2 separate regions of the Homo sapiens genome follow, and region 1 is linked to region 2. Evidence: fine-mapped expression QTL. A gene starts in region 2. The other region holds a variant in brackets. All regions are shown on one strand. Distances are between the middles of the regions. Region 1 has its middle 6.1 kb from the start of SLC2A12. Region 2 holds the start of TBPL1 (TATA-box binding protein like 1).

Evidence for each region.
Region 1: its variant is fine-mapped to the expression of TBPL1 in left ventricle (GTEx, PIP above 0.99).

The regions. Positions count from the first base shown.
Region 1 is chr6:134,057,299-134,060,210 of GRCh38, reverse strand. No RefSeq gene overlaps it. Among named protein-coding and RNA genes, the nearest start is that of SLC2A12, 6.1 kb to the right of the region's middle. The variant T/A (reference allele first, on the strand shown) is at 1,480.
Region 2 is chr6:133,952,041-133,954,952 of GRCh38, reverse strand. TBPL1 (TATA-box binding protein like 1) reads right to left here and starts at 1,729. Exons shown (of 7, transcript NM_004865.4): 1 at 1,528-1,729. It overlaps LOC128092253 (umcharacterized LOC128092253), which reads right to left and starts at 1,649. Exons shown (of 2, transcript NM_001414965.1): 1 at 1,528-1,649. The coding sequence starts at 1,649. RefSeq lists a silencer at 2,622-2,731.

The DNA.
Region 1 (2,912 bases), 110 kb before region 2:
GTTCATGATGGGACCAGATTGCAGAGGTCGAGTCAGGAAGTGGCAAGAGATGGACCTGGAGGGATCAGCCCATGCAAGACCCTGTGGGGCATTTTAAGCCTCATGAAGAAATTTAGATCAACCCTAAGAACAACTAGAAGTTGGAGAAAAGTTTAAAACAACTGAAAGCCATTTAAGTATTTAGATTTTAGAAAAAATCTTGGCACCACTGTGGAGAATGGGCTTAGGAAAGCAAGAATGCCCACAGGAAGACCTGTTAGAGGCTATTGCAGCTCTTCCCGTGGGAGATTATAAGGTGGCCCGGATTTAGAGGGTGGTAATGGGGATGAGGAGGACTGAATGGAGGTACAAGGTTTTTAGTAAACATGGTCATCTGGAAAGAACTATACTTCTCCAACATATTCATAGGGGCAGAACCAAGTTTTGTGGGGCCTGATGTTTATAAAATTTGGGGGCTCTGTTTTAAAAAATAAGAATACAGGCCAGGTGCAGTGGCTCACACCTGTAATCCCAGCTTTTTGGGAGGCCGAGGCGGGCGGATCACGAGGTCAGGAGATCGAGACCATCCTGGCTAACATGGTGAAACCCTGTCTCTACTAAAAATACAAAAATTTGGCCGGGCATGGTGGCGGGTGACTGCAGTCCCAGCTACTTGGGAGGCTGAGGCAGGAAAATGGCGTGAACCTGGGAGCTGGCAGTAAGCCAAGATTACACCACTGCACTCCAGCCTGGGCGACAGAGTGAGACTCTGTCTCAAAAAAAAAAAAAAAAAAAGGTGAATATTTATTTTGATAAATTACAATTTTTAAAAAATTTAGACAGGGTCTATCTAGCTCTGCCACCCAGGCTGAGGTACAGTGGTGTGATCTCAGCTCAGTGGCATGAGCTCAGCTCACTGAAAACTCTGCCTCCCAGGCTCAGGCAATCCTACCTCAGCCTCCCAAGCAGCTGGGACTACAGACATGTGCCACCATGCCTAGCTAATTTTTGTATTTTTTGTAGAGAAAGAGTTTCACCATATTGTCCAGGCTGGTTTCAAACTCCTGGGCTCAAACGATCTGTCCGTCTTGGTCTCCCAAAGTGCTGGGATTACAGGCATGAGCTATCATGCCTGGCAGTAAATTACAAATGATAAAAAGCTGCCAAGCATTACAAAAATTGCATAATCCAGGAATTACCTGATACACTTCCATAATACTTTTTTCCCTTCATTTTTTGATTGCACACATTTTGATCTTTTTTTTGTAACACAATTTTTTTGTGACATTACTTTCTATATAAAGAAAATAAAAGAACCCAGTCTGTCCTCTAGCATGGCCCTCTGCCATGGCCCTGGGAGCTGTAGGACAAGTTCACACTGAGAGATAGCCTCTAGCCCTGTGCTTTTCCATCTTTGTGCCACGTGAGTGATAATGTGGGATATGCACGGCATGAGATGGCATAGTGAGGAGCAAGAGAATTCCTGGAAGTCTTTTCTAT[T/A]CCAAGAGAGCTAGTGAGGGCTTAACTCTATATTAGTTAAGTGCTTGTGAACTATCCATGAGAAACCAAAACCAGGCCCAGTACAGTGGCTCACGCTTGTAATTCCAGCACTTTGGGAGGCCGAGGCAGGTGGATCACTTGAGGTCAGGAGTTTGAGAATGGCCTGGCCAACATGGTGAAACCTCATCTCTACTAAAAATACAAAAAAAAAAAAAAATTAGCTGGGCATGGTGGTGTGCACCTGTAATCTCAGCTACTCAGGAGGCTGAGGGAGGAGAACCACTTGAACCCGGGAGGCAGAGGTTGCAGTGAGCCAAGATTGTGCCACTGCACTCCAGCCTGAGTGACAGAGTGAGACTCTGTCTAAAAAAAAAAATACAAAAAAAAATTTTTTTTCTAACTTCACTGATCTTAAGTCAGATCCCAAATATTCCATGGCCACCCTTATGTCACATGACACAAAGGAAACAAGATGTTGCTGGCCAGGTGCAAAGCATTAGTGGTCTTAACTGATTGCAGTTATTTCATTTTAGCAAATTTTACAAAACATATCATTATATAAATGCATTGCTGGGTGCCTCCCAGGGTCTTGGAAGGGCTGGTGTGGGTGAGGGGCCCTGCAGCTTAAACTTCATTAGCTTCCTGATTAATCTGCTTCTGCACACATGAAAAAGGACTTATCTAGTTGAGTCTGGTGTCATTCCTAGTTCTTGGTTTAAAGCAACAGAAACCAACTCCAACTTGGAAACTGTAGTCAAGAATAACTCCCCAAATCCTGCTTTGAGCTAATCTAGCCACCCCTGAGCACATACCTAACAGTGTATATCTAGCAACTCTGACATTAAATATTTTGGCCAGAGCCACTGCCACCATCCTCACTGGAAGGTGGGGCCTGTAGATCCTGCTACTTTGTGCTACAGCTTCTGATGCAAAATCCAGGGTGCATGAACTGCTTGGCAGAGCCTGGTCCTAAGAGAAAAGGGAGTATCAGGCCTTTCCAGCTTCTGTTTAGGAGACAGGTTCTTCCTTGCAGAGGGGGATTCCCAACACAGGAAGGATCTTCTGATCCTGGGCAGCCTAGAAGAAAATAAAAGCCCGTGACAAGCTCTAACATGTCCACCTGAGCTGAAATATAATGAGTTCATCTTCAGAAGCTGAGCACAAGGTTTCGCATTTCAGTAAGCTTTCTGCTCCAGATTTTCCCTGAGTTATTCAGATTATTTAAACTTGGAAAGTAGTCATTTTCTGTGCAGTGCCCTCCTTATTGTCTGGCAAACAAGGGACATGTAATGAAAGCAGACCAGAGTTCCCAACCCAATAACTACTGCTTGTTGTCATGTATGATCAAGCAACTTTTTCTGACTTCATGGTATCAAAGGCAGGTTAATCTCAAGGAAAGGTTTAATCATTGAACAGCTTTTTGTTAATGCCCT
Region 2 (2,912 bases):
CTGGACCTCAATTCCATATTAAAAGCTTAAGATGAAAACGCCTGAGTTGAAGCTATATTCTGGCTAGCCCTCATTCAGGAACAAGCCAGCCCAATCAAGGGCACATAGTAATAGGTCACTAGAGTTTCTGATACTGATTTTGAGGGCAGAGGGTACGTAAAGAGGAGGCTGGGGAAAGGATGACACCTTTTTGCTTAGGAGAAGTCAGGTTTAACAAAAGGGGTGGGGAACAAACAGAAGCTGTGGTTGACCTAATTGCTCCTATGATTTATCAATTTTATTTTCATCTTTAATCTTCAACTTTACATAAAGAACTTTGTATGTATATGTGGCCTTTTCATTGTGCTACAGGAAAACCTCATTTACTCACCCAAAATGATTTTGTAAAGTATAAAACCATTAAGCAGCTTGTGATGTAAGACTAAAGAGGTAACATAAACTGATATTTCACTGGGCATACCAAACTGTGAATAATCCTTTCAACCAGATAGTGCTAACAGTCACTTCTCAATAGGAAGGAACTGCCATTTTCTCAAAGAGACTGCGAAATTATGCCAGGATGGCTGAACCTTCTTATGTCTCTTTTTATATTTTCCCAGAGAATCCACATTGCTTACACACACACACGCAAACCTGCTCCCTTTTCTTAAGTCACAGTTTTAAGGCACTGTTCTAAACCCTAAATACAGAAGCTCATGCACTTACTGCCAGTGTCGCTTTGGAACTGCAGGTGACAGATGCAGTCAGAGAGCTCACAGATGTGGATTGACTGCAGTTTGAGTCTTATTGCAATGAGCACATTGACAGAGCCTGCAGATGCACATCTCGGCAGGAGAGATTTTCTTTTTAAGCCCTCATGCCCTATTAGATTTACTTTTAGGGCTTTTATTGGCTATTTTTATCACTTATCCCGACTCTCATCCCTGCTTAGCCCTACCCACAATTCATTTTCTCTTCTTCAGTTCTAGATCCTTCTCCATCAATCCTAATTTTGGTCAAAAATAATAATAAAATAAAGCGAGGCTGCCGGCATTGCCAGAATCAGAAACCGACGAAGCCGCTTTTTGGGAGCTATTAGAGAAGCCGCTGTAAGTTTTCTGAGAAGCAACGGACCCCTAGCATCTTTGCACGGTCCCTCTTCCCCTGGGTGATGGCTCCGAGACAGATGAGGAATCTCTTTTCCCCGTCTTTCCCAGTGGTGGCTTAAACGAAAGATAACCCTTCTTTTCTTATCCTACACCAGGCTCGGTAACGCTCCCAGGTACGGACGCCCCACCCCCAACCCGTTATCCCTAAAGAGATCCCCAAATATCGCCCGGTCCTCTTCAGAACTGAGCCCTCCCTCGGCCACCGGACCGGTTTCCCCCACCTCAGCGGCTGCCCTCCAGTCGCCCGCCCCCACACATCCCACCCCAAGTCTGGCCCGGGCTCCGCACATGCCCACCCCGCGCCCAGACGCCCCGCACCCGGTGCTCAGGCCGCTCAGCCGCCCGCGCTCCCTGTGCCCAGGGTCGCCTAGGGGGTTACCGTGGGAAGAGGGAGCGGTGGCTGAGGACGCGGCGGCAGCGCTGCTGCCGGTTGCGTCGGATGCGAAGGAGAAGCTGGAGGACAAGGATGAGGATGAGACGGGCGCGCTCCCCAGTCTCCATGGAACTCCCGCCCCGGCCCGTTGCTAGGAGCCCCCGAGGCTCGGACTCCGTCTTCCTTGCTTTGTTGTTCCGGGTGCGAGGCGGCCGCAGCTTCCCCGCGACAATAAATAGACTAGACGCTGGGGAGCATAGAGACAGTGCGCGAGGGCTAGAGCGCCGCCGGACAGGGCGCTCCTGGGTGCCTCGCTAGCCACTCATTTCCGGCTCTCACTGCTCCCGTCACTTTCCCCGTCCCCCGCCCCCACCCTTCCTTCCTCCTTCCTGGTCCCCAAATCAGGCCCCTCCTGCCCACCCGCTGGGCTCGGTGGGAGGTAAGAGGTGGGATGGGGGCGGCGCTAATGGGCATCGGACTAGACTTTTTTGTTTAAGAACCGCTTGAAAGGGTTCTGAAAACACCGTGTATCCTTTGTATATTTTTAGTTGATATCTAAACGTGTAGTAATTTCTGGCATACAGTCGAATATTTAGGTGGACTTTTTTGTCAAAACCGTAGAACTTTCTCATCAGCTCATTAAATTTATACAAAAGGTCCTCCCCACCCCCCATTATATAATTGCTAAAGCTAGTCCTTACCGTCCAGACGAGACTTGTTTTCTGCCTGAAAAAAGTCCTTCGCTTTTTCAGTCAAAATGAACCCGTTAATTTATGATGTCGCGATAAATTCCCCTAGTGAGATTCCTCACTAGGCGAATTGGAATCCTGGTCTTAGAGCGACCGGGGATGACAGATGACAGACGGAGGGAAGGAAGTGGGGAGAGATGGAGACACAAGGTGTGGCGAGACGGAGGGATAACGCAGGACCGTATGCCACTTCTGTCGCCTGTCCCACATTCCTTACTCTACGTGGGTTTGCGGTCGGGACTGTCCCTCGGGAACCGAGAGGCGGATCCAGGAAGGATGGGAGTGGGAGAGGGCGGATGCTGGCGAGGACTCAGGCAGCCCGGGATAGGAGGACCTCTAGGAACGGAGACCCTCCGCGGCTCTGCGCCCAAGTAGCCCTGCAGGGGCCGGGGGACCCCGGGGGCGCACAATGGCCCGTTTGAACCGTCGCCCTGGGGCCCGAGTGCGTCCTCGGGGTCCCTCGGGAGTGGCCTGAGAGGCGCTGCCCGCGGGAGCGAAAATCGCGTAACGGCCCTGAGGGCGCCACGCCACGCCACGCCACGCCACGCCGCGCGGAAGCCCCCGGCTCCCGGCCCCACGTTTCCCACTCTCAGGCCGGCATCGGCCTTTCCACCAGAGCTCGGCTGCAGTCAGAAGCCCCTG